7 linked regions of the Homo sapiens genome follow. The protein of the gene in region 2 purifies or fractionates together with the protein of the main gene of each other region. This does not show direct contact. Each region holds a gene or a part of one and is shown on either strand. Other genes may lie near its edges. The genes, in order: GOLGA5, HTR1E, CLCC1, ITGA2, NRP1, TMEM63A and ABCC1.

The links.
Region 1: the proteins of HTR1E (region 2) and GOLGA5 purify together in Homo sapiens (co-immunoprecipitation; one large-scale study listed by IntAct). This does not show direct contact.
Region 3: the proteins of HTR1E (region 2) and CLCC1 purify together in Homo sapiens (co-immunoprecipitation; one large-scale study listed by IntAct). This does not show direct contact.
Region 4: the proteins of HTR1E (region 2) and ITGA2 purify together in Homo sapiens (co-immunoprecipitation; one large-scale study listed by IntAct). This does not show direct contact.
Region 5: the proteins of HTR1E (region 2) and NRP1 purify together in Homo sapiens (co-immunoprecipitation; one large-scale study listed by IntAct). This does not show direct contact.
Region 6: the proteins of HTR1E (region 2) and TMEM63A purify together in Homo sapiens (co-immunoprecipitation; one large-scale study listed by IntAct). This does not show direct contact.
Region 7: the proteins of HTR1E (region 2) and ABCC1 purify together in Homo sapiens (co-immunoprecipitation; one large-scale study listed by IntAct). This does not show direct contact.

What each region holds. Positions count from the first base shown.
Region 1 is NC_000014.9:92,811,305-92,814,804, forward strand, and holds part of GOLGA5 (golgin subfamily A member 5), read left to right. Parts: intron 1-246; coding exon 247-450; intron 451-3,500. UniProt on the Homo sapiens protein: Involved in maintaining Golgi structure. Stimulates the formation of Golgi stacks and ribbons. Involved in intra-Golgi retrograde transport.
Region 2 is NC_000006.12:87,010,528-87,013,853, reverse strand, and holds part of HTR1E (5-hydroxytryptamine receptor 1E), read right to left. Parts: intron 1-3,326. UniProt on the Homo sapiens protein: G-protein coupled receptor for 5-hydroxytryptamine (serotonin). Also functions as a receptor for various alkaloids and psychoactive substances.
Region 3 is NC_000001.11:108,929,005-108,932,484, forward strand, and holds the end of CLCC1 (chloride channel CLIC-like protein 1 isoform 1 precursor), read right to left. Parts: 3' UTR 937-3,480; coding exon of another isoform or gene 697-936; 3' UTR 501-696; downstream 1-500. Other genes in the region: GPSM2 (G-protein-signaling modulator 2), read left to right, coding at 697-936. UniProt on the Homo sapiens protein: Anion-selective channel with Ca(2+)-dependent and voltage-independent gating. Permeable to small monovalent anions with selectivity for bromide > chloride > nitrate > fluoride.
Region 4 is NC_000005.10:53,058,852-53,062,351, reverse strand, and holds part of ITGA2 (integrin alpha-2 precursor), read right to left. Parts: intron 2,479-3,500; coding exon 2,340-2,478; intron 1,452-2,339; coding exon 1,306-1,451; intron 1-1,305. UniProt on the Homo sapiens protein: Integrin alpha-2/beta-1 is a receptor for laminin, collagen, collagen C-propeptides, fibronectin and E-cadherin. It recognizes the proline-hydroxylated sequence G-F-P-G-E-R in collagen.
Region 5 is NC_000010.11:33,212,668-33,216,167, reverse strand, and holds part of NRP1 (neuropilin-1 isoform a precursor), read left to right. Parts: intron 1-2,346; exon of another isoform or gene 2,347-2,450; coding exon 2,451-2,782; exon of another isoform or gene 2,783-2,930; intron 2,931-3,500. UniProt on the Homo sapiens protein: Cell-surface receptor involved in the development of the cardiovascular system, in angiogenesis, in the formation of certain neuronal circuits and in organogenesis outside the nervous system. Mediates the chemorepulsant activity of semaphorins.
Region 6 is NC_000001.11:225,845,036-225,848,208, reverse strand, and holds the end of TMEM63A (mechanosensitive cation channel TMEM63A), read left to right. Parts: intron 1-995; coding exon 996-1,169; 3' UTR 1,170-1,175; intron 1,176-1,276; 3' UTR 1,277-2,673; downstream 2,674-3,173. Other genes in the region: EPHX1 (epoxide hydrolase 1), read right to left, coding at 2,862-3,063. UniProt on the Homo sapiens protein: Mechanosensitive cation channel with low conductance and high activation threshold. In contrast to TMEM63B, does not show phospholipid scramblase activity. Acts as a regulator of lysosomal morphology by mediating lysosomal mechanosensitivity.
Region 7 is NC_000016.10:15,956,116-15,959,615, reverse strand, and holds part of ABCC1 (multidrug resistance-associated protein 1), read right to left. Parts: intron 1-3,500.

The sequences.
Region 1 (3,500 bases), on a different chromosome or scaffold from region 2:
GGGAAAGGCCTTGGATGGCTATATTTTTAACAAACTTCCTGGTTGATTTTAATGCATTGCCATGTTTGGGAGTTACAACTTTACATTTCCTATACTTTAGCTCCTAACAAATTAAGAATTTTTTCCCATCCCTACTATGTTGTTTGGCTGAGCTAATAAATCCCATAAGATATCCGAATGGATGGTTGTAAAATATGTTTCAAAGCTAAATGATATCATTAATTATGATATAAAAATTTGTCACAGAGCGAGTTTGCTGCACGCCTTAATAAAGTGGAAATGGAACGTCAGAATTTAGCAGAAGCAATTACACTGGCCGAAAGAAAATACTCAGATGAGAAGAAGAGGGTTGATGAACTGCAGCAGCAAGTCAAGCTGTATAAGTTGAACTTGGAGTCCTCTAAGCAGGAATTAATTGACTACAAGCAAAAAGCTACTAGAATACTGCAAGTAAGCATGAAATGTACACTTTTGGATGTTAAGATGTGCAAGTTAACTGAAAGGCAATTTGAGACTGTGTAGATACTGTGTGAGGTGCTTTGTTCATGTTCGTCTGATTGGCTAGCTTTAGGTGCCTTACTCTACTTTAGAAATTTTATTAAAGGATGCAGTGTTTCTTGTTCCTACCACTTCTTTTAAAAAAAAAATTCATTCTGCCACTGCCTAGTTCAGGTCTTCAACCTGTCACCTTACTCACTGTGATGATATTAATGCTTGTTGTTGAGCAGCTGTTTATTCTTCCTTGTTGATCTCCTATTGAATTTTTGCAGCAACTGCTTTAGGACTCATCCAGTTCTCAGAATTGTCTCACCCAGCTTTTTTTCCCCTCCTTCAGATCTAAGGTGATCTTACCCTCTACTTTACTAAGAAAGACTACAGTCATCTAATGTCGTTTTTGAATTCTCTTTCCTTTGTCCCTCAGAGGGAAAACATGTCCTTTCATTTTTTTCTAGGATCATTTTCCTGCCTGTGCATTGATTCCATCTCCCATCTCATGTGTAAGCCCTTTCTCCATAGATCTATGCCCTTCCTTCCTGTGTGTGCCTCTCTGCTGCTGCTGCCTTCTGGCTCAGCTTACTCAAGAGCACATGGTTATTTAGTGGAAAAATGAAGACTAGATCTCGGACTCCTGCCTAAGAGAAAAACAGTCTCTTTTAGCTTTGTGACCACTTTGCACTATTTCCCTATCTTCCTTTCTTTCAGTGTCATGCTTACCAGAATTGTGTACGTGCTGTCTTCATTTCTGTAGAACTTGTTAACTCTTATCTCCTTCTTTTCCTACTACATGTCTGAAATTTCTTCTCAAAAATATTTGATGACCTAAATAAATATTCTCTGTCCTTTTCTTAGTCTCCATACCTTGTATTTTGGTAGAACATTTGGCTCTGTTAACCCTCCCACTTCCTTGGAACTCCTGCCTTCTATGCTATTCACATCTCCTTGGCTCTCTTTTTGTCCTCTTCTACTGCTGTTTCTGTCTCTCTTGGGCGCTCTTCCCAATCTCCAAAGAGTCAGAGTCCTCCTAAGCTCTGTCCTGAACCCTCTTTCATTGTCCTTTCTTACCTTGCACTGCTGTATGCTGCCTCTGCTTCTAATAGCCGCCTGCATATGACTTCAAGCATGTTTCCAAGCCTGACCTCCTGACCTCAGTGCCCAGCTGCCTACTGTGCAGGCATGGAGTGTTCAGCTCCCAGACCAACTTCTCCCTCATTCTTCTGTTCTGGTCAACGTTACTGCCATGTGGCAGTAAAGCTTGAAACCTCAGGGTCATTTTTGACTTTACCTTTTTTCTTTAGTCTCAAACTTCTAATGGCTATGAATACCTTTTTTTAATGCTACTTCCATGAAGTATCATATTGATCTCCTCCTCAAACTCTTCTTTCTAAGTACTTTTTTGTATCACCCTAATTTGTTAATTCATTGAAAAGTTACTTATTGAGCACCTAACTACTCACTAGGCACAGAGGATACAAAGCTCAAAAGATGTGTCCTCTTCCTTTAAGAAAACATTCATCTTAGTGGAAAGAAACAGATAATTGACGTAATAAGGTTATTAATGCAGTACAATGGGAGCTTGAGAGAAGAATCCCTTAAAACTTGCCTGAGGCTGTCAAAGATCACTGGACTGAGGAGATGTGGTATAAAGAGAAACTTGAAAGATGAATAGGAAGACTCATGATAGGGAAGAGATTTCCGAGAGAACAACCTGTGCCAGAGCAAGGGGGCCAGAGAGAACATGGCATATTTAAGGGACTGCAGCTAGTTCCATACTGCTGGAACATAACGTCTTCAGAGATGGGAGGCAAAAGACTCATAAAGTTCAACGGCAGGCAGAAGCCATGGTCAGGTTTGAGTGTGAGAACTGTGGCAGCCTGATGAAAAGGTTAGGGGAGATTTGGGCCTCTGTCTTGTTCATCGTTGTATCCCCAGCACAGTGCCTGGTATTCGGTACATTGTTGAAAACATGGAAGTGATAAGGGGTGGCATCAATGGCATGTAGATGGTGAAGAGGTGATCATAAGAAATAATGAGGACCTGATCAAAGTTTTTGGCAGTGAGGATGGCAGGCAGGGGACAGCTAAGAGATATGTGGGAGATAGAATATATGACATGTGGAGATTTAACTGGAAGGATGGGGGAAAAAGGCAAATGGAATCCAGGATGACTCCAGGTTTTTGGTTTAAGTGTATGAATGATGTTTCCTTGTGTTAATAAAAGGGGAAACAGGAAAGAGAACAGGTTAGGGTTAAAGGAGAGTATGACGAATTATGGTAAGTATGCAAAATTGATGCAACATTGAGGTGACAATGTTAGAAAGGTAATTAGAAGTAAGTTGGGAGAGTAGGTAAGTTTAGGCAAGAGCGATGTGTAACCTAACGGGGAGAAAGGCTGAGGTCTAAAAACACAGTCTTAAACATCAGCATTTACAAATTGGGCAAAAGGATAGCCTGCAAAAGAAAAATACTGAGAAGGTGAGTGGTCAGAGATTGGAGAGAACCAGGAGGAGACTGATGCCATCCAATGAAGCCAAGCAGAGGGAGAGTTTCAAGTGGTGCATGATCACCAACCACAGCACGCGGCTCTGATGTGACAAGTCCCGAGCTAAATTCCTGGACTTGGCAACTAGGAGGTCCCTGGGGACCTCTCAACAGAGAGTTCCGGGGTGCGCTGGGAGCTGAAGACATGGAGGCAGGGTACTTGACCATGGACATGAGGACAGTAGCTAGATGGGGGAATGAGGTTGGGAGGTTTCTGGTTTTTTATTAAAAAAAATCTTAAAATGTTATAAATGATCATGTTTATTATAGAAAATTTGAAGAATACAAAAGAAGTTTGAAGAAGGAAATGGAAATAACCCATAATCCTACCACCCAGAAAAGGAAAAATTATTTTTGATGGAGGAGAATGACTTTAAAATATTTTAATTTAACGTGAAAGCTGCTGGTCCTTGTTGTTCCTAGTCTAGAATTAGGACTTTATAAACTGGTCTTTGCATGTCA
Region 2 (3,326 bases):
TGAGAAGTGGCTGTTCATATCCTTCGCCCACTTTTTGATGGGGTTGTTTGTTTTTTTCCTATAAATTTGTTCAAATCGTTTTTGACAAAAACATCACAAAATTTTAAATGTACTTTGCCACCCCAATTAATTTCTTATTTATATTTATTCTTTTATACATGTTTATATATAAAAAGGCTTTTTTTTACATTTGAAAATATATATTCATATTATGTAACATTAAACATTCTGGGGCCGTTAAAGAAAAAATTATATTGCTTATAATAAGCAGCTTTCAAATCAGATTTTAAACTTTCACAGTAAATATGCTGGCGTGGTGGCTCACACCTGTAATCCCAGCACTTTGGAAAGTTAACTGCAATAATCAGAGCTAAAAATGGATACATCCTATGAGGAGTTGATGGAGGACCTTTTTGGGGATTTGTAACTTTAAATTTCCACTTTATTGTGACATAAAAAATATCATGAGTCCAAGGCCATATTTAAATTGTTTTTCATAAAAATTACAAATAGGAGAGAATTACTCTAAACCAAACTGGTTAGTGTACGCTGCTCCTCATTTCCAGGGATACTCTAGAGCCTCTGCTTTATACCATCCCAGTGAAGGTCAGAGCACCAGGGAGATGAGGTTATAGGGATGATAGATGTTAAGGCCGACTTTGGCATATTATTCTTCTGGGGCTTTGTCCTTTGCAGCAGATGAAGAGGGACAAGAATCTCTTTCTCATCCAGGAAGAGTTTCCAAAGCACCTAAGCATTATCAAGAAGGAGGAGTCAGCTGGCACCTGCTCATCTTAAAAATTATCTTAAAGAGGGTTTTATATTTTGGATCTGGTTCCTCCATTAGAAAACTGACATTTCACTTCATAAGTCCTGATTTACTTTAACCTAAAAAGTGTGCCTGAGTCAGCGGTTTTGGAGAGAAAGCTTGGAGTGGTGACTACCCACATGGACTCTGAATGCTGACCCTGCCACTTGTCAGCTGCAGTGTAATCCTAAGCATGTTCTTTAACGTTAGCCTGCTTCAATTTCCTCCTCTTTAAATCAGGAATAATGACATCTTTCTCTAAAGTAAGTAGTGTGAAGATCAAATGTGTTAATACACGTAGAAGCTGAGAACAACGCCTAATACATAGTAAGTACTATGTAAGTGTTTGCGGTCATTTGTTATACTAATTTTCCCAGTGATTTTTGCATTGGGTAATGGAGACAGATTTCATCCCACAAACTCTGATGTGTAATAAAAGCCTATTAAAAATAAGTCAACTTAATTTTGTTCTTTCTTTTTTTTCTTTCCAACTTTTATTTTAGGTTTTGAGGGTACAAGTGCAGATTTGTTTCATGGGTAAACTGTGTGTTGCAGGGTTTGGTGTACAGCTTATTTCACCACCTAGGTAATAAGCATAGTACCCAAAAGGTAGTTTTTCAAATCTCACCCTCCACTCACCCTCTACCCTCATGTAGGCTCTGGTATCTATTGCTCCCTTCTTTGTGTTCATGTGTTATTCAATATTTAGCTCCCGGTTATAAGTGAGAACATGTGTCAACCTAATTGCTGCTTCTAAGCTTCTCACTTCTCATGCTTGAGACTTTCTCTAACCCCAACCACACCCCCAAGTCTCTGGAGGATTATTTAGGGCCAAGGCATTGAGGTTTGGTTGGGGAGAGGGGTTTCAGATGTTGCATGCACAGAGAAAGTCCCTGGTAAGATATTTACTGTCCCCCACTCCTACAGTTCTTTCAGATCCCCAGACTGCTTCCGTAACACGCTTAGGAAATGTCCTAAGGTTGGGAACCCCATGCCTAGCCCCTAAGTCCCTAGCCACACCATGCATGTATCCCTTTTTAAAATATTATAGACTCTTCAAGGCACTTCCAGAACTTCTGGCCCAAGTCTTAGACCCCCAGGATCTTTTCTGTTCCTCCATTTTGCGCGGGAAAGGTATGTAGACCATTGGAGAAATTCCTTTCTTCCTTCATTTTTTTTTCTAACCCTTTCAGCCACCTATTAAAAGCTCTCTTTTCCTTTTTTACTTATTTACAAATCTTTTATTAATAAATCTCCTATGGGCTTGGCTTTTGAGAACATAAATAGGGATTACTGTCTGATACTTCCGCTTTCTGAAATATCTGTGAGGTAAGGAAGCATAAACCAGGCCACATGCTTGACTGAAGGAAAGGGAAAAAATAGAAAATAGCATCCAGCCATACATGTAACATTTCTTGTTGACATATTCCCCTTTCCTAGCATTCTTAGAGTTATCTGAAATATGGGACAAATATCCTTACCACAAAGTTTTGCTAAGACTTTGAATTACCAGAAAATATTATATAACGTCTCAACCATTAAAAGTTTAACATGCTGGTGGACCTGGAGCATTCCTGATCAACTCATTTACGTTGCATGTAACCACCATCATTTAGAGAATATTTTCCTGAACTGCTTTGAAGGAACCCAGGGTATACTTGCCTTTCTCTATTTACTTCCCAGCATTTTCCCAGTCAACCTGTGTTAAGTACTGACTTCTGTCCATTCCTAGACACTTCCAGATACCACTTCCCTTTGATAAGTCATTCCCTCCTGCTGCAAGGTTTCTGTTTTGCACATGGCCTCTAAACTGATCCAGGAAAACTGCCCTCAACTCTGTCAGCTTAGCCACCCTCTCTCCTAGCAGCATTTCCTGGCTCCACATGATGTTCTGGGCTGCAATTGCTTTACCTCTTGCCTACCAAAAATTCAGAGGTCACATAGTAGCTATTGCAAATGGAGTTGAAGCTGTCTAAAGTCAATGTATTAAAAGTTTAAGCATCTTAGACCAATAACTACTTTAAAGAAACCACAGAGAATCAAGAAACATGTTAAACTACCTTTTGATTATGCAATCATTGGAATCCAAACTGTAAAAAAATTCACGGGTTAAATCACCCAGTTTCTTAAATAAATTGCAGACAAGGAGGGCGATAAGAAGTGTGGCGTATAGGCCGGCGAGCGCCGCCCGGGAGGCAGCGGCTGGAGGAGCGGACGGGCCCCGCGGGGCCCGAGGGCAAGGAGCAGCCGCCTGCCTTGGCCTCCCAAAGTGCCGAGATTGCAGCCTCTGCCCGGCCGCCACCCCGTCTGGGAAGTGAGGAGTGTCTCTGCCTGGCCGCCCATCGTCTGGGATGTGAGGAGCCCCTCTGCCTGGCTGCCCAGTCTGGAAAGTGAGGAGCGTCTCCGCCCGGCCGCCATCCCATCTAGGAAGTGAGGAGCGCCTCTTCCCAGCCGCCATCACATCTAGGAAGTGAGGAGCGTCTCTGCCCGGCCGCCCATCGTCTGAGATGTGGGGAGC
Region 3 (3,480 bases), on a different chromosome or scaffold from region 2:
AAATTCATTCTGGGCTATTTCTTAACAGATTTAACAGCCTAAGACAGAGGCAGGCAAACTTTTTCTGTAAAAGGCCAGATAGAAAATATTTTAGGCTTTGCCGCCCATATGGTATCTATTGCAACTGCCCAACTCTGCCATTTAGTAGGGAAGCAGCCATATAGATAGTATATAAACATATGTATTGATGGGAAAATGAAAATGACTTCATTTACAGAAGCCGGCACTGGGTTACAGTTTGCTGTCCCCTAGCCTAAGACGTGATTTTTTTAAGGTAGTTCCTCATGGGGTTTGTACATATTTCTAAAGATTTGTTAAGTTACACAGTTGATGCCTGTTAGATTATAACCTTGAACTGTCATACTTAGATACAGTTGACCTTGTCTTTTATCCTTGTGACCAATTATAATTAAAACAGTATGACTTAACATAATGCACGTACTAAACCAATGAAGCAGCTATACCTATATAAGCCATTTTAAAGGAAAAATTTTATGCAGTTTCAGGTTTAAAGATTATTTCTTTCAGAAATCAGGCTGGGAACTAAAGAGAACAATATAAAAACAAAGATTAATTTCTGAGAAGCCCCAAATAAAAGTTTACAACTGCGTTTTCTTGTTGTGACTGAGAGATTTAACATAGCTTGGTGCTTTCTTTCCCACAGTATGTCTTTTAATCTCTCTCATAAACTTCTAGGGATCCAGATTAGATGATCAAAGATGTGCTCCACCACCTGCTACCACAAAGGGTCCGACAGTACCAGATGAAGACTTTTTCAGCCTTATTTTACGGTCCCAGGGAAAGAGAATGGATGAACAGAGAGTTCTTTTACAAAGAGATCAAAACAGAGACACTGACTTTGGGCTAAAGGACTTTTTGCAAAATAATGCTTTGTTGGAGTTTAAAAATTCAGGGAAAAAATCGGCAGACCATTAGTTACTATGGATTTATTTTTTTTCCTTTCAAACACGGTAAGGAAACAATCTATTACTTTTTTCCTTAAAAGGAGAATTTATAGCACTGTAATACAGCTTAAAATATTTTTAGAATGATGTAAATAGTTAACCTTCAGTAGTCTATTAAGGCATTAATACTTCTCTGGACATGCGCGTTTGAGGGTGGAGGGGTCCTGTAAGGTGCTTCATCGTCTGTGATTACTGCTTGGGATGTGTTCTTTGGCAGCTTGTGAGATTACTTTACCTAGTGTTTATAAAGTAGGAAGTTAAGTGAATCATAGATTAGAATTTAATACTCTTATGGAAATAATTTTTTAACATCTTAATTGACAATGGCGTTTTTTTATACATAACCATGGATGTAGTGGGAAACAATGTTGTTTGGTAAAAATAATGTACTTGATCAATGTAAAAAAGTATATAAAATAGTCTTACTAAAAATCTAGGTTTTTTTTTCCTCCATGAAAATCTGTTTTTTTAGGCCAAAGTCAGTATAAAAGAAACTCTACTTCTTGGGCTGGGCATGGTGGCTCATTCCTGTAATCCCAGCACATTGGGAGGCTGAGGCAGGAGGATCGCTTGAGGCTAGGAGTTCAAGACCAACCTGGGCAACATAGACCCCCGTGTCTATGAAAAATAAATCAGCAGCCAGGCGCAGTGGCTCACACCTGTAATCCCAGCACTTTGGGAGGCCGAAGCGGGCGGATCACTTGAGGTCGGGAGTTTGAGACCAGCCTGGCCAACATAGTGAAACCCTGTCTCTACTAAAAATACAAAAATTAGCTGGGCATGGTGGCATGCGCCTGTAGTTTCAGCTACTTGGGAGGCTGAGGCAGGAGAATCACTTGAACCCCTGGGAGGCAGAGATTGCAGTGAGCTGAGACCAAGCCACTGGACTCCAGCCTGAGTGACAGAGCAAGACTCTGTCTCAAAAAAAAAAAAAACAGCAAGCATGCTGGCACACACCTGTAGTCCCAACTGCTTAAGAGGCTGAGGCAGGAGGACCACTTGAGCCCAGGAGGTGGAGGCTGCACTGAGCTATGATCGTGCCACTGCACTCCAGCCTGGGTGACAGAGCAAGACCCTGTCTCTAGAAAACAAGTATCTTTTGTGTGTTTTGGGCTGTTTAAAAAAATTATTTAAAATGGTCTCTTCTGTTCCATAATACTGCTGTAAAACAAACTTTTCTAAGTTCTAATATAAAAACAAAAAACAAAACCCATGTGGTTAGGTCAAGAACCTAGGACACATAAACAAACAGAAAACAGATGAAAACTCACAAAAATTAAATATGAAAGAAAGATGTCAGCTAGAACCTTAGTTGTCATTAAGCTTTGTCTTCCTTATCCCAGATATTGAAGGCAGTTTACAAGGGGATGATAACAAAGTAACTAACTAACTGTAGCAAAAGACAAGTATGGGACAGACTGGGACCTGGAGTAACACTGGATCACAGACTGCAAAGGCCCACGCTTGGAACAAGTTGCCAACTTGTTTCACTCTGCTTGCTTCAGACTGTGCACAGCTGGGATGGGATCTGGGGATGTGGACCCCTATTCTTTCAAAAAGTCATTCAGGTGATTTGGATGGGCAAATAGAACTATTTCTCTAATGGCCAATGTTTTTTAAGAGTCATAACCTGGAATTAATTACATTAAGTGCTCAGCTAAAAAAAAAAAAAAAGTTCTAAATTACAACCTGGATTACATTATGTTTCATGTATACTATAAGGTATGATGTCCTGGATAGCATTTTAAAAACTCAGGTAAGTTTCATGGGGTTCTTATAAGAAAATTCAGTTAAGACAATATACCAAACCACAACGTAAAAAGTTTGTGTATACAAACTTTTTGTATTATTTGTACACAAAGTACAAATTTGTATTTGTACACAAAGTACAAACTTTGTGTATTATTTTGTGTATACAATAGTTCTTACAGCCTGTAAACATTCAACATTATTCCATTTAAACATTGTTTTTAACAGCTGTCTACCCTGTTCTGATTTTCCTAAAAGCTTCACACTATATAGGCTGGGCACAATGGCTCATGCCTGTAATCCCAGCACTTTGGGAGGCCGACAAGGGCGGGTCACTTGAGGTCAGGAGTTCGAGACCAGCCTGACCAACATGGTGAAACCCCATCTCTACTAAAAAATACAAAAATTAGCCAGGCATGGTGATGCACATCTGTAATCCTAGCTACTCGGGAGACTGAGGCAGGAGAATCTCTTGAACCTGGGAGGTGGAGGTTGCAGTGAGCCGAGATTGTACCACCTCACTCCAGCCTGGGTGACAGAGCAAAACTCTCAAAAAAAAGTAAAATTTCAAAAAAGCTTCACAATATAAACCTTAATTTTAATGACATATTGGCTAGTCAATAAACAAGTCTTATCTCATCTCATCTCTTTTCTGATAACAAACACCCGATGTGTTCAATTTGCTTTCATATTTAAGTCTTTCCTGAATTGCTGTCATCATTCAACAACAGTTGCATGTCGCCTTGCTAGCTGTCAAAGTAGACTT
Region 4 (3,500 bases), on a different chromosome or scaffold from region 2:
AAGCTTCTATAGTAAAATAAATTGTAATAGAGGCAAGTCCCAAAGGCTGAGTGATCAGAGAGCAGGAGAGTCAGGAAGGCTTAGAAAGTTAAAATATCATTCAAATTGCAAAGTAAGAAGGACATGGAGTTTTCTAGGCAGAGGGAAGTGGGAAAGCACATATGATGATGTAAGTGTACATGGCATGATATGAGACAGGTAAGTAGTTGCTGGATAGATTGGGACAGGAGGACAAGGTGGAGATAAATTAAAATAAGAAAAGCTGAGACTTTGAACCTTCATCCCATTCAACAACGTTCAATGCATGCCTATGTGAACACTTTTTGAGGATTTAGAAATGACTAAGAAATGATTCCTTCCATAACACTGTCACTGTTATTTTCTAAATTAAAGAAGAACTTCTTTAAAATATTAAAAAAGAGAGAAAAGTATGTGACCATAGCTAATTTGTGGTCACGGAAGTCAAGAACTCGGGTCTTCTTACTCCTAGAAAATCCATAGGAACAGCAGGATCACACTTAATCTCAGAGAAGAGAAATCTTTGTAAGTTTCTCCAGCTTAAAGAAGGAAACCACTTTTTGTTGGTTGTCAGGGATTAGTGATGCTCATTTTAAATGTGTGTCAAGCCCCTGGGTCAAAACTGTTTAGTAAGGAAACAGGAAGCAATCAGCTGGCCTTTGCTCTAGCAACAGATCTTTGCTGTAGTGGGCCATATCTGGGATTCATCATAGGGTCTAACTACCAAACTGTCACCCATCAGCTGAAAGTGGCAGAGAAGATAATTGTTTTACTTTTAGAATCTTCAAAACCAACAGGACATTCTGACAGGTTCAGATGTAAAAGTTCAGTCCTTATAATGTTGTGCTGCTCCCTTCTTCTCATTATTTCCTCTCCAAATCCTTGTTCCTAGTGTGTGCTTACCTACAAAGCAGTGGTTACATGCCTGCCATCACAACTAAATAATATCCATGCATTATTAATCCAGGGAGTCAAAAACATGAAGGGGATGTAATCATTCAGGACAGCCTCTGAGTCCAGAAAGGACTGAGTTTTAATGACAGCTCAATCCATGGACGCTGTGTGACCTTAGAAAGCTAGCTAAATTCCCAGTAAGTTGTCAAAAGGGAGGGCTGTCTTCTTGGTATTGTTGTGATGATTTAAGGAATACACTAAGTAAACTCAGATTACAGAGCCAATCACAGAGTAGGCACTCAGGCCATGTTGTTTTCCATTTCTGTTCACCTGACTCCCCACCTGCCCAGTTGCCCCTAAAATTAATTTCACCTGCTAAACAGTGAGATTTACCTGGTCACCTCGGTGAGCCTGAATAACCGTGATATTGCCATTCTCATTCACACTATATAGCACTATCTGGCCGGTATAATTTGCCCGAGGAGCACCAGCAACAAAGTGAGTGCTTTCTCCAGTAGAAATTGCAGCCACAGAGTAACCTAAAAGGGAAGGAGCAACAGAGTGATTAACATTGACTATCTGAGCAAAATAAAGTTAAAAGAAGTGAGTAAAGGTGACCAGAGATCCTTTTGTGTTAGATGTGATGCAAAGTTTCTAGTGCTCCTGAATACATCACTGAGGACATGTCTTCCTTTTTCTAAGATGAATTGCTCCTGTCCTTTGACCTGCAGCACTTCCCTTTGCAGGTGGGACTTCTACCTATAAAACTGCCTCTAGATTCCACGCTGTTCTCATCAGCCACCTGTGAACCTGGCATTCAAAAAATATTTCTTGAACGAATGAATAAATGTATTTAAAAGGTAGTGTTGCACAGTAGAAAGAACACAGGTCTTGGAAACAGGCTGAGGTTCAGATTCTGGATTTGCCGCTTACTAGGTTGTTGAACGTTAGACAAGTTGTTAATCTTGCTATCTCTCAAAGGCAAAACATCCCTGAAAGACTTGTTGGAAAGATTTAAATGTTTATGTAGATAGACTAGCAGCTCAGGAACTGTCCCATAGTAAGTCTGCAAAATCAGTGGCTGCTTATTATAAGAACAAGAAGACTAAGAGCTCTAAAATACTATAAGACTATCACTTACTGTATTGACTTTTGGGAACTATTTCCATTTTGGAGGAACACAATCATGTTCCAGGAATTACAACCACTTGACCAGCCAGAAGAAACTAGTGAGTATAATATAGTATTCCAATAAGTAGTTATGCCTTAAGGCCCGATTGGCAAAGAGACAACATATGTATGTGTAATAAATATGATAATTAGATGACAGTTCAAGGATTTTGCTGAACTCACCCTGAGATTCAACAAAGAGCTGGTTTAAAGCAAGGGAACTTAAGTTTGCTGAGCCAATTATTACCATGCCTTACCTAAATATGAACTGTGATTTCTGTCCTGCAGAATTTGGTCAAAGGCTTGTTTAGGAAAGATCAAATGGCCATGAGATGTCTTCTGGACAATGGTCCCACTCCAGCCAAAAGCTCCCACTGCACCCAGCATCAGAATATCCTAAAATAATTGAAAAATGAAGATCATTGAAACAAATCACCTTTAAAACATAAGAATGCAGGGTAGGCAAAACATTGAAATAAGTTGTTTAGATTTATTAAAAATGATGAAATATATATGAACATATATTGACATATTGTAGAATTGTCTTAATATATTTGTGCTAGAGAACAAGCCTTCCCATTGGCTGTGTTATTTTGGACTTTATTTAGTATGATATGTTATACAGACAAACCTTTGTAATAACCTGTAGTACAGGACAGGTACAGAGCCATCTTCAAATTTCCCTTTCAAAGGCATATATTTGCCAATGGTAAACCCTTATGAACTTTACAAAGGAGTCAGAAGTGAGTCTCTCACTCCACATATTTATAAGGAAAGCTCACAGCCGGATATGAGACATGCTTGAGAAACAGAAGTACTGACACGGGAGAGACGGAGATACTTCTGCTATCCCAGACACGGCTCGGGAGGCCCTCTTCTGACCTGTTCTACTTTCAGCTTTCTTCCTCTCTCTTCCTGACCCCTTCTCAAATGTTCCAGTATATTCCTATATTCCATCTATTTGATAATAGCACAGCTACAAGAGGCAACTTTAGCTGTGACATTCAATCTATTGGAAGGAAAATAACCATTTGTCAGCCCTGTGGGGAGGGCAAAGGAAGATGCCTACTCTGGATTGACTTGAAACCCAATCTAAACACTCAATGCTATAAATCATCAAACGAGGCAGATTTGGTGAGGATGAGATACACTATTTTTAATTTTTTGTTCTTCTATCTTAGAGCGTACCAAAGATAAGATGTTGGACTAAAAAATACAAGCCATGAAAAATAGCAAGTAAGGAAAAGATGTGTTCTACTTTGAGGATAAGAGACCATGAAGTTATGTGAATGACTGTAGTAAATTGAGGGACTCTGGATTTGGGGTGCATGAAAGGACTTCAGCGTATGTACAAAAACCTCATGGGATTGTGTGCAAAATTCTCCGTGCATAGATTCATTTACATTTTTTCTGAGGGA
Region 5 (3,500 bases), on a different chromosome or scaffold from region 2:
AGACTCCTTCTCAAAAAAAAAAAAAAAGAAAGAAAGAAAGAAGGGAAATGCAGATAAAATGGTGTGAAGAGGCCCAGAAATGGAAAACTGTGTCCAGTTGCAGAGAACAGAAAAACTGAGTAAACGATGTGGCATTTGAAAACAGGTCAGGATTTTAAGCAGTTCAGATAATGGAAAAGGGTAACATGACAGGGAATTCCTTGTGGAGGGAACAGAAAGAAAGCTCCCAAACTCCCAGAAGTAAGGAAGTTCTTCATGCCAATTGGCACTGGTTAAAGGAGTGAATGGGGAGAGGCCTTGCAAGGACATGACATGGAAGGCCTGCATGCCTGACTGAAAATGACGTGCGTAATTTCTAGACAAGAAGGCACTGAATGTCTGAGTAAAGAAACGACATGATCTGGACCATAGAACTCATGTGGAAAGTATCTGAGTAATGAATTCTTAAGGTTCAGCTGATAATGTGGACTTAGTTTAATTGCATTAGATGTTTGCCTCTCACTTAGGGGTAGTTATATTTTTAGGCTAAATTTTTATTATATAACGCAGAATTGAGTTGCTTCAAAGAAAAATAGGTTATCATTCTTGCACATGTTCTTGATTAGGATGTACAGTTTCTAAAGGAAAATACTTGAAGTGTTGGACATTTTGTCATTAAGCCAGCGTTGAATTCATCAACAACTGATACTCTCCTTGTGCTCAGAAGCTCCTTGGGCTGCTTTAGAAGACATAAAAAGGTCTATGATGCTGTTCATTGCCTTTGAAGATCTTATAATCTAGCTGTGGGTACATGACTAACAATCTTAAAGCCTTAGAGAGCAGTGGAATGCTGAGCTCTGTGCTACTTACATCATATTTCTGAGAAGGGAGAGCTCAGAATAAAAGCTAGAGTAGCTTGAAAAGTTCTCTTCATGAGTCTTAAGCTGGGTTTTGAGCAAAGGCAATGATGAGGATGACGTCTAGACTGTATGAGAAGAGAATTGCTTAACTGAGATGTATTGTCAGTAATAGAAAATCAAATTAGGCAAATGGGATGAAGTCAAAATGAGGGTCTTGAATGCCAGATCGAGTTTTGATATCTTCCTATCAATAATGGAAAACCATGGTACATTTTCAAAAGATATCTCTTTTCTATTGTCGGGGTAAAATATACATAACATAAAATTTACCGCTTTAACAATTTTCAACCACTTTTAACCATTTTAATTTTATCATTGTACATTTTTAAGTGTACAATTCTGTCGCATTAAGTACAGTCACATTGCTGTGCAAGCATCACCACTATTTCCAGAATTTTATAATTGTCTCAGACTGAAACTCTGCACCCATGAAACACTAACTCTCCCAATCTCCATTTCCCCCAAGCCCTGGCAACCACCATTTTGCTTTCTGTCTCTACGAATCTGACTGATCTAGTGATAGGCTACTCCTATCCATGGAATCAGACCATATTTGTCCTTTTTTTGTTGGGCTTCTTTCACTTAGCAGTGGAGATTTTTGAGGATGAGAATGACATGCTTAAAACAACATTTTCTGAAAATTTAAGTAGCAGTTGGTGTAGTGGAGATTCAAAGTGGGGTCTGGGAGGCCAACCAAGAGCTGATGTAGCACCCTGGCCAGAGCGCTCGGATCAGGATAAATCCAGAAGAAAGGAAGGTAGCAACAAGAGTTCTGTTGCTTTCTTGTACTTAATAAAAACAACAGGATTTGGCAGCAAAACGGAAATGACGAGATGACTAGGCAGGAAGTGGATGATTGGTGATGCCACCAATTAAAAGACAGGGTTCAGTGAAAAGATGCAGTATCCAGGGGAAAGGACTGTCTTAGTCTGCTTGTGGTACATTTGAGATGACAGTGAGACATTCATGTGGAAAGTCCCCAATGCAATTAGAAATAGGGGTGGGGAGAACAGTTGTGGGGGATCATGGTCACTATTCTCCCACACTCAATTCAAATGCCACCTCCCCTGGGAGGTCCTCTATTACCTCTGCAGGCTGAGTATGCATTCGTTCTCTTTACCTCTGCATCACTGTCTCTTTACCTTTGTTTTAGCAACCTTCCTGCTATCGGATTGACTTCTATGCATATCTCCAATCCATCATAAACTATGAACTTCTCTTAAGCAGGGCCAGTACTTGATCCAGGGATGAATTCTGGATACCAAAGAGACTGAAATATGAATGTTAAACTTAGAAGATGTCAAAGCGGGGGAAATGTATGTTCTTATTGAAGATTTGCCTTACTGGGATGTGAGTTTAGAGACGGGAATTCTGACAGAGCAGGAGGAAGGTTTGAGGGAGGAAAGATTTACTGTAAAATAATCCAGAGACTGAAAATTGTATATGATTGGGTACAAAATCATGTCTTTATTCCATATGTTGTATTTTATTTCTTAGCATGGAGTCGCCCAGGAAATCATTTTACATTATCTGTTTCATTTCACTTCCCAGATTATCCTTGCTCTGGAATGTTGGGTATGGTGTCTGGACTTATTTCTGACTCCCAGATCACATCATCCAACCAAGGGGACAGAAACTGGATGCCTGAAAACATCCGCCTGGTAACCAGTCGCTCTGGCTGGGCACTTCCACCCGCACCTCATTCCTACATCAATGAGTGGCTCCAAATAGACCTGGGGGAGGAGAAGATCGTGAGGGGCATCATCATTCAGGGTGGGAAGCACCGAGAGAACAAGGTGTTCATGAGGAAGTTCAAGATCGGGTACAGCAACAACGGCTCGGACTGGAAGATGATCATGGATGACAGCAAACGCAAGGCGAAGGTGAGGGCTGGGGACTGGGAGGAGGTCATCCCTTATGTCCTTGACTTCAATCAAGGGCCTCTGGCATTCTCCCGAGGAAGGGCTTCTTATTTCCTTCCAGCCATGACATTAGAGGAGGTGTGTGATGGGGTCAGTAAGACCCTTGATTCTAGGAAGACAGGAATATGGCATGAAAAGTGATGTCTGAGATAACATGCAAAAGAATTGCATTGCTGGTCCCATTCCCTGGCTGTAGGGATGGACAGACAGCTCAACATGCAGACAGGAGACGGGGAAGCCCAAGGCTGACAGCAGCCATCCAGCCAGCGCTCAGAACCCCTTGCAGATACCACTCAGTCGTTTGGGTCTGCCCTCCCCCCATCTCAAACCTACCCCTAGTTTAAGTGCTTTGTTTCTTTTATAAATTTTTATTGTGGGCCAGGCTCAGTGGCTCATGCCTGTAATCCCAGCACTTTGGGATGCCGAGTCGGGCGGATTGTCTGAGCTCAGGAGTTCGAGACCAGACTGGACAGCACGGTGAAACCCCATCTCTACTAAAATACAAAAAATTAACAGGGTGTGGCAGCGTGTGCCTGTAGTCCTAGCTATTCTGGAGGCTGAAGCAGGAGAATTGCTTAAACCCGGGAGGCAGAGGTTGCAGTGAGCTGAGATTGCACCACTGCTCTCTAGCCTGGGTGACAGAGTGAGATTCCGTCTCAAAAAAAAAAAATTAATTGTG
Region 6 (3,173 bases), on a different chromosome or scaffold from region 2:
TGAGTTTGGGGCTTTAGTGAAGGCACATGGTAAGGCGCTAGGGTTTGACAAAGGTTTGTCATCAGCGATGCACCTGCCTGTGCGAGGTCCTCCACTAGGCTCCAAGAGGGTGTCAGGCAGACTTCCCTTTGAATTCAAGAAATGAACATTGCACCTGCTTCAGAGGAAGACCCCATGGTAGAGAGACACAGGGCTCCTTGCCTTCCTAGTTCTCTCTGCACACAGCCTCCAGGGTCCTGCTCCTAGGGTGGGGCTGGGAAGGGAAAGCAGAGCCCCAGGGTTCCAGAGCTGTAGTCACCAGCCTTCCTGACAGCCGTGGCCAGGACAGAGCCGACCTCATCTGCAGGGTTCTTTCTGGTGGCTGCCTCCCAGGTGTCAGGCTCTCTTATCGGTGTCTGTCCTTGGACAAGTTCCAAACAAGGGAGGGCCTCAGAAGGACTCATTACCCAGCGACACACCTGTGGCTATGCTGGCCAAGCAGGGAACATGCAGGACAGGTGGATGATGTCAAGCCCTCACAGCCAGGGTCTCAGGAGGAGTATGGCAGGGCTCTGTGCCTGGGGTCAGTGGCTGGAGCCTGGGATTGGGAGGAAATGAGACTCAAAATGAGACTCACACAGATATGTTGAGCATCCCAGGGGTCCCAGGGCAGCGTTCTAAGCCCCCCTATATAGGTAGACTTGTTTCTTCTACAAAGTGAGAAATCCTCCTAGGATCCAGGGCTAGGAAGTTTAGTTTCCTCTGAGAACTGCTCTCTTGTGCTTCCTTCTGTGATCATGAGAACTGTATAACTGTGCTTTCTCTTTTGCCCTGGCTGCTAGGAAATTCTGCAGGTGTCATATTTTCGGTCTTAATGTCCTAAATGGATGTCGGTGTTTCTTCATATGTCCTTTATGGCCACTGTCTGTGTCCTGTTGGGAGAAGGGCAGGAGGGGAGGGATGCAGTGTGGAAGCTCATGCCTGTCCAGGCCAAGCACAAATCCATTTGCTGACAGCCCTACGTGCCTCGGATTCTGAACGGCTTGGCCTCGGAGAGGACAGCACTGTCTCCGCAGCAGCAGCAGCAGCAGACCTATGGTGCCATCCACAACATCAGCGGGACTATCCCTGGACAGTGCTTGGCGCAGAGCGCCACGGGCAGTGTGGCTGCTGCCCCCCAGGAGGCCTGAGGCTGGGTGAGCTGCTGGCTGGGCCAGGCTCAGGGGAGCCTGTGGGGTGAGAAGACAGGTGAAGCGGCCTGACTCCCAAGTTCATGACTTCTTCCCATCTGTTTTAGGTCTCACTGCTCTGAAAAGACACAACCAGAATGGCCTGGGGCTCAGGCCCTTGGCTGAGTGGGAATGCGTTGGGACTGCCCAGCTGAGCTATCAGGTGCCCATCTTTTCTGGTCCCAGCAGTGGTGAGGAGAGCACAGGCAGGCCTCGCCCCTCCCTTGCTCACCCAGTTTCCCCTCCGGCACAAGCTTCCAGCTCTGCAGCTGGGGTGACATCCCCAGTGGTTTGTCGCCAAGACCATGTGGTGGACTTTTCGCCCCCCAAACTGATGAGTCCGGGAGAATATATGGAGAGAGAGATGTAACAAGGGGAAGGCCTCCTCCCTTCTGAGCACACACACAACCGATAACCAAAGAGATGCTGCAGTCCAGGTCTGAGGTCCCGCTGGCATCCAGCTCCCTGCTCCATGGCCAGTCCCTCCCCAGCCCAGCAGTCCCTCCAGGCTACATCCAGGAGTAAGCTATGGGGAACAGGTTGGGAGGTGGCCAGTGCTCCTGCCAGCTGTGCACACATCTCTGTATCCCGCTAGAGTTCTGTGTTTTTGTATCATGTTGTCAGGGACGCTAGCTGGGTCAGGGTTACCCCATAGCAGGCAGGGACAAGGACCACTCATAATATGCCCATTGGACCACAGTTAAGATCCAGCCTCTCTCACCTCTTCAGGGCTGAGTGCATGAGTCTGCACCTCCAGGCAGGCTCTGTGCAGTACTCACCCCCTCCGTCTGCTCCCTCCAAGGTGTGGGGGTGGGCAGTGCTCAGGGCCTCCTCGGAGCCAAAGGACAGCATGGTCGGCACAGAGGAAGGGGTACCTGGGCTGGGTGCAGGGCCATCCCACTGCCCTTGAGCTGTGGCTCTGGCAGGAAGGAGGGGCAGCCCATCCCTCTTCTCCCTCCTGGGGATTCTGGGGAATGGGATGCAACTTAAGACTTCTGCCTGAGAAGCCTCCTCCCTGCTGCCTCCAGGGGGCACCAAGGCACAAGCCTGTGCAGTAGGGGCGGGATGGGGGTGTGGAAGAGCAGGTCCAGGCTCCTAGCACAACTGGCCTGGGGCCTTGGCACCTCTGTAGGCCCTGCCTGTGCCTGTCCGCTGGCCTGGGGGGCCTGGGCTTATCTGGGCCTTCTCACTCAGGGACTCTCTTGACGCTGACTTGCCCCCGCAGTGGTGGCCAGTGCTGCCTCTGCTCCAAGCTGCCCCTGCGCTGGGAGGGGTGGGGGCGGTGCCATTGGTCTGGTGCAGCATAGCCCTGGCCAGTGGCCTCATCCCCAGCAGGCCTCCCGTGCCTCTGCCAGCAAGGAGGGGCCGGCCAGCTCTGCTTGCACAGGGGGCCCCATGTGGGGTCAGCGCACGCTCATGTCACTGAGTTCCAGCCGCTTTTAGAGTAAAGTCGTTTATCATCAAAGCCATGTTGCTTACCACACGGAGTTGGGGGTTGGGGAGTGAGCTTGGAGGGGTGAGGGGGTGAGCGTGGGCTCCCAGCATGGGCAGGGGACGGAGGCAAACTCATTCCTCAGAAAAGGGGTATCTTCCCCAAGAAAAGCCTGGAGGGCACTTGTGGGGGGAGGTGGCAGGCGGGGGGAGAGGGGTGGGTCATTGCCGCTCCAGCACCGACAGGAACTTGCGGATGTCCTGGGCGAGCAGCTCCGGCTCCTCAAAGGCCGCAAAGTGGCCCCCACGAACCATGTAGGAATAGGAGATGAGCTTTGGGTACTTGAACCTCACCCACTTTTCAGGCGTGTGCAATAGCTCAAAAGGGAAGGCAGAGAAGCCAGTGGGCACATAGACCTTCATCCTGGAAGTGAAAGAGCCGACGGAGGGGTGAGGCTGTGGCCCTGCGCCCCTCCGTCCTGCACAGCAGGGGGTTAAAGCGCCTGGGGGTGAGATCAGCTGGCCCACCCACAA
Region 7 (3,500 bases), on a different chromosome or scaffold from region 2:
GGTGGCTCACGCCTGTAATCCCAGCACTTTGGGAGGCCGAGGCAGGAGGATCGCTTGAGCCCAGGAGTTTGAGACAAGCCTGGGCAACATGGTGAGACCCTGACTCTACAAAAAATACAAAAATTAGCCGGGTATGGTGGTGTGCACCTCTGGTCCCAGCTACCTGGGAGGCTAAGGTGGGAAGATAGCTTCAGCCCAGGAGGTCGAGGCTGCAGTGAGCTATGATTGTGCCACTGCACTCCAGCCTGGGTGACAGAGGGAGACCCTGTCTCAAAAGAAAAAAGAAAGAAAAAGAAAAAGAAAGCCATTTTTGTTTTCCCAGGGGAGAATGAACTGTCACAACTCCAACTGGGAAAATGGAAAAAGGTAAAAAGACACAGCCCTCAGTAAAAAAGAAACTGCCGCAAGTTTCTTCTCTAGCTAATTGGAGTTTAACCTCCTTAACGTCTCATTAAGCTTCTCCAAGGCAACCCCAGTAAGCCAATTACACTAGAATTTCGACAGCCCACAACCTCCTAGGGAAATGCAGGATGAGGAGGAAGGTCTTGCTCCATGTTTCTCCCCCATATTCCTCCACACCAGTGGCTGTGTGATTTCACACCCCAGGGAACATATGGAAACATCTAGAGGCATTTTCGGTTGTCACAACAAGAGGAGGTGCTACCAGCATCTACTAGGGGGTAGAGGCCAGGTTTGGGGCTAAGACTACGCTGCACAGAACAGCAACCAGGCCACAAAGAATGATGTGGCCTACATGTCAACGGGGCCGACACTGAGCAACTGTGCTCCATGTCCCCACCCGCAAAATACAGCTTCCTCAAAGGCCCCGTTCAACCATTCAGCCTCTAAGAGGTAAGTGCAGGTCCCCAGCACCACTCCACCCACAGGGATGCTGCCCTATCCCAGTTTTCTTGCTAAGCGGGGGGAAGCTTGCCTCAGGATGTCTGGCCATTAATTAATTTTGGCAAAATGTTTGGGCAAGTTTTCACGAGCTAGAGTTGTACTGACCACACTAAGAGCTGATCATCAAAGCTAGGCCTTACTTCGCCATGAAAATCTGAAGCCAACATACCAATCAGATGCTAACTTCAAGGTTGGCCTGCAAAGCAGGAGATGCCAACTCAGATACCAACAGGTGCCAAAGTGGGTTCCATCCATGCAAGAAGCAGACCAGGTGTGAGGAAGCACAATTTTAAAAAGGCAACAGGCCAGGCACGGTGGCTCATGCCTGTAATCCCAGCACTTTGGGAGGCTGAGGAACTCAAGTGATCCACTTGAGTTCAGGAATTCAAGACCAGCCTGGCCAATATGGAGAAACCCCATCTCTACTAAAAATACAAAAATAAGCCGAGTGTGGTGGTGCGGGCCTGTAATCCCAGCTACTCGGGAAGCTGAGGCAGCAGAATCACTGGAACCCGGGAGGCAGAGGTTGCAGTGAGCCGAGATTCCACTACTGCACTCCAGCCTGGGTGACAGAGCGAGACTTCGTCTCAAAAAAATAATATAAAATAAAACAAAGGCAACAAACATTTGGCCTTAAAATTAAAGCAACAACAGGGAGGGGTGGGGACTGCGGCAAACTGGAGCAACTCAGAAACGGACAGCCTCAGCGGACCGCTACCATGTATAAATGTGGGCCTGGGGCTAGCAGAACTTCTGATTTTTCAAGGGAAGCCAGAAATCCAGATGTTTCTGTGAAATCTGCCAATGAATAAACATTGTAGGGCGGGCCACAGTGGCTCATGCCTGTAATCCCAGCACTTTAGGAGGCCGAGGCGGGCGGATCACGAGGTCAAGAGATCGAGGCCATGCTGGCCAACATACTGGAAACCCCGTTTCTATCAAAAACACAAAAATTAGCTGGATGTGGTGGCGTGCCCCTGTAGTCCCAGCTACTGGGGAGGCTGAGGCAGAATTGCTTGAACCCAGGAGGCAGAGGTTGCAGTGAGCCAAGATCGTGCCACTGCACTCCAGCCTGGCAACAGAGCAAGACTCCGTCTCAAATAAATAAATAAATAAAATTGGAAATCACAGTCATTCCTATAATTAAAATCAAGCCAAACCAGCACAGTGGTGAGCTATATCTAACCCCTAGCTTGGAACTCATACCTCAAACACTCAAATTCTAATGTTGATTGAGCCCCCACTGTGTGTGAGACACTGAGTCCTGGGAAAAGAGGGGTGGACAAAACCCTGTTCTGACCTTTCCAAGATGAAATAGAAGCTGTTCTGCCAAGCACGGTGGCTCACACCTATAATCCCAGCACTTTGGGAGGCCAAGGCAGGCAGATCGCCTGAGTTCAGGAGTTCACCACCAACCTGAGCAACATGGCAAAACCCTATCTCTACAAAAAAAAAAAAAAAAAAAATTAGCTGGGCATGGTGGTGTGTGCCTGTAGTCCCAGCTACCTGGGGAGCTGAAGTGGGAGAATTGCTTGAGCTCAGGAGGTTGAGGCTGCAGTGAGCTGAGGTCGCGCCACTGCACTCCAGCCTGGGTGACAGAGCAAGACCCTGTCTCAAAAAAATAAAATAAAAAAACAAGCCATCTGATGAGAAAGCTGGAGGACTCAGTTTATCTGAGTGTTCATTCCAGACAGTTAAGTGATTATTTCATCCTTAAAATCCTTACAAAGAAGTTTCGACACCGCCCAAAAGCCACTGTAATACTTCATGTCATTCATTTATTCAACAAACAGCTGACCCTTGAACAACACACATTTAAACTGCACGGGTCCACTTATACTCAGATTATGCTTCTGCCTCTGCCATCCCTGAGATAGCAAGACCAACCCCTCCCCTTCCTCCTCCTCCTTAGCCTCCTCAACGTGAAGACAATGAAGATGAAGACCTTTATGATGATCCACTTCCACTTAATAAATAGTAAAAATCTCTCTTATGAATTAATCTTAACATTTTCTTTTCTCTACCTTGCTTCACTGTAAAAATACAGTATATAATATATATACAAGGTATGAGTTAGGCCAAGTGCAGTGGCTCACGCCTATAATCCCAGCACTTTAGGAGGCCGAGGCAGGTGAATAGCTTGAGGCCAGGAGTTTGAGACCAGCCTCGGCAACACAGCAAGCTCCCCATCTCTATCAAAAAACAACCAACAACAACAGAATTAGTGTTATCAACTGCTTATGTTCTCGGTAAGGCTTCCAGTCAACAGTAAGCTGTTAGTAGTTAAACTTTTAGGGAGTTGAAAGTTAGACCTGAATTTTCTTTCCTTTATTGTGTTTTTTTTTTTTTAGACAGAGTCTTACTCTGTCACCCAAGCTGGAGTGCAATGGCGCGATCTCGGCTCACTGCAGTGTCCGCCTACCAGGTTCAAGCAATGCTCATGCCTCAGCTTCTCAAGTAGCTGGGATTACAGGCACCCGCCACCACACCCAGCTAATTTTTGTAGAGACAGGGTTTTACCATGTTGGCCAGGCTGGTCTCAAACTCCTGACCTCAAGTGATCTGCCTGCCTTGGCCTCCCAAAGTGCTGAGATTAC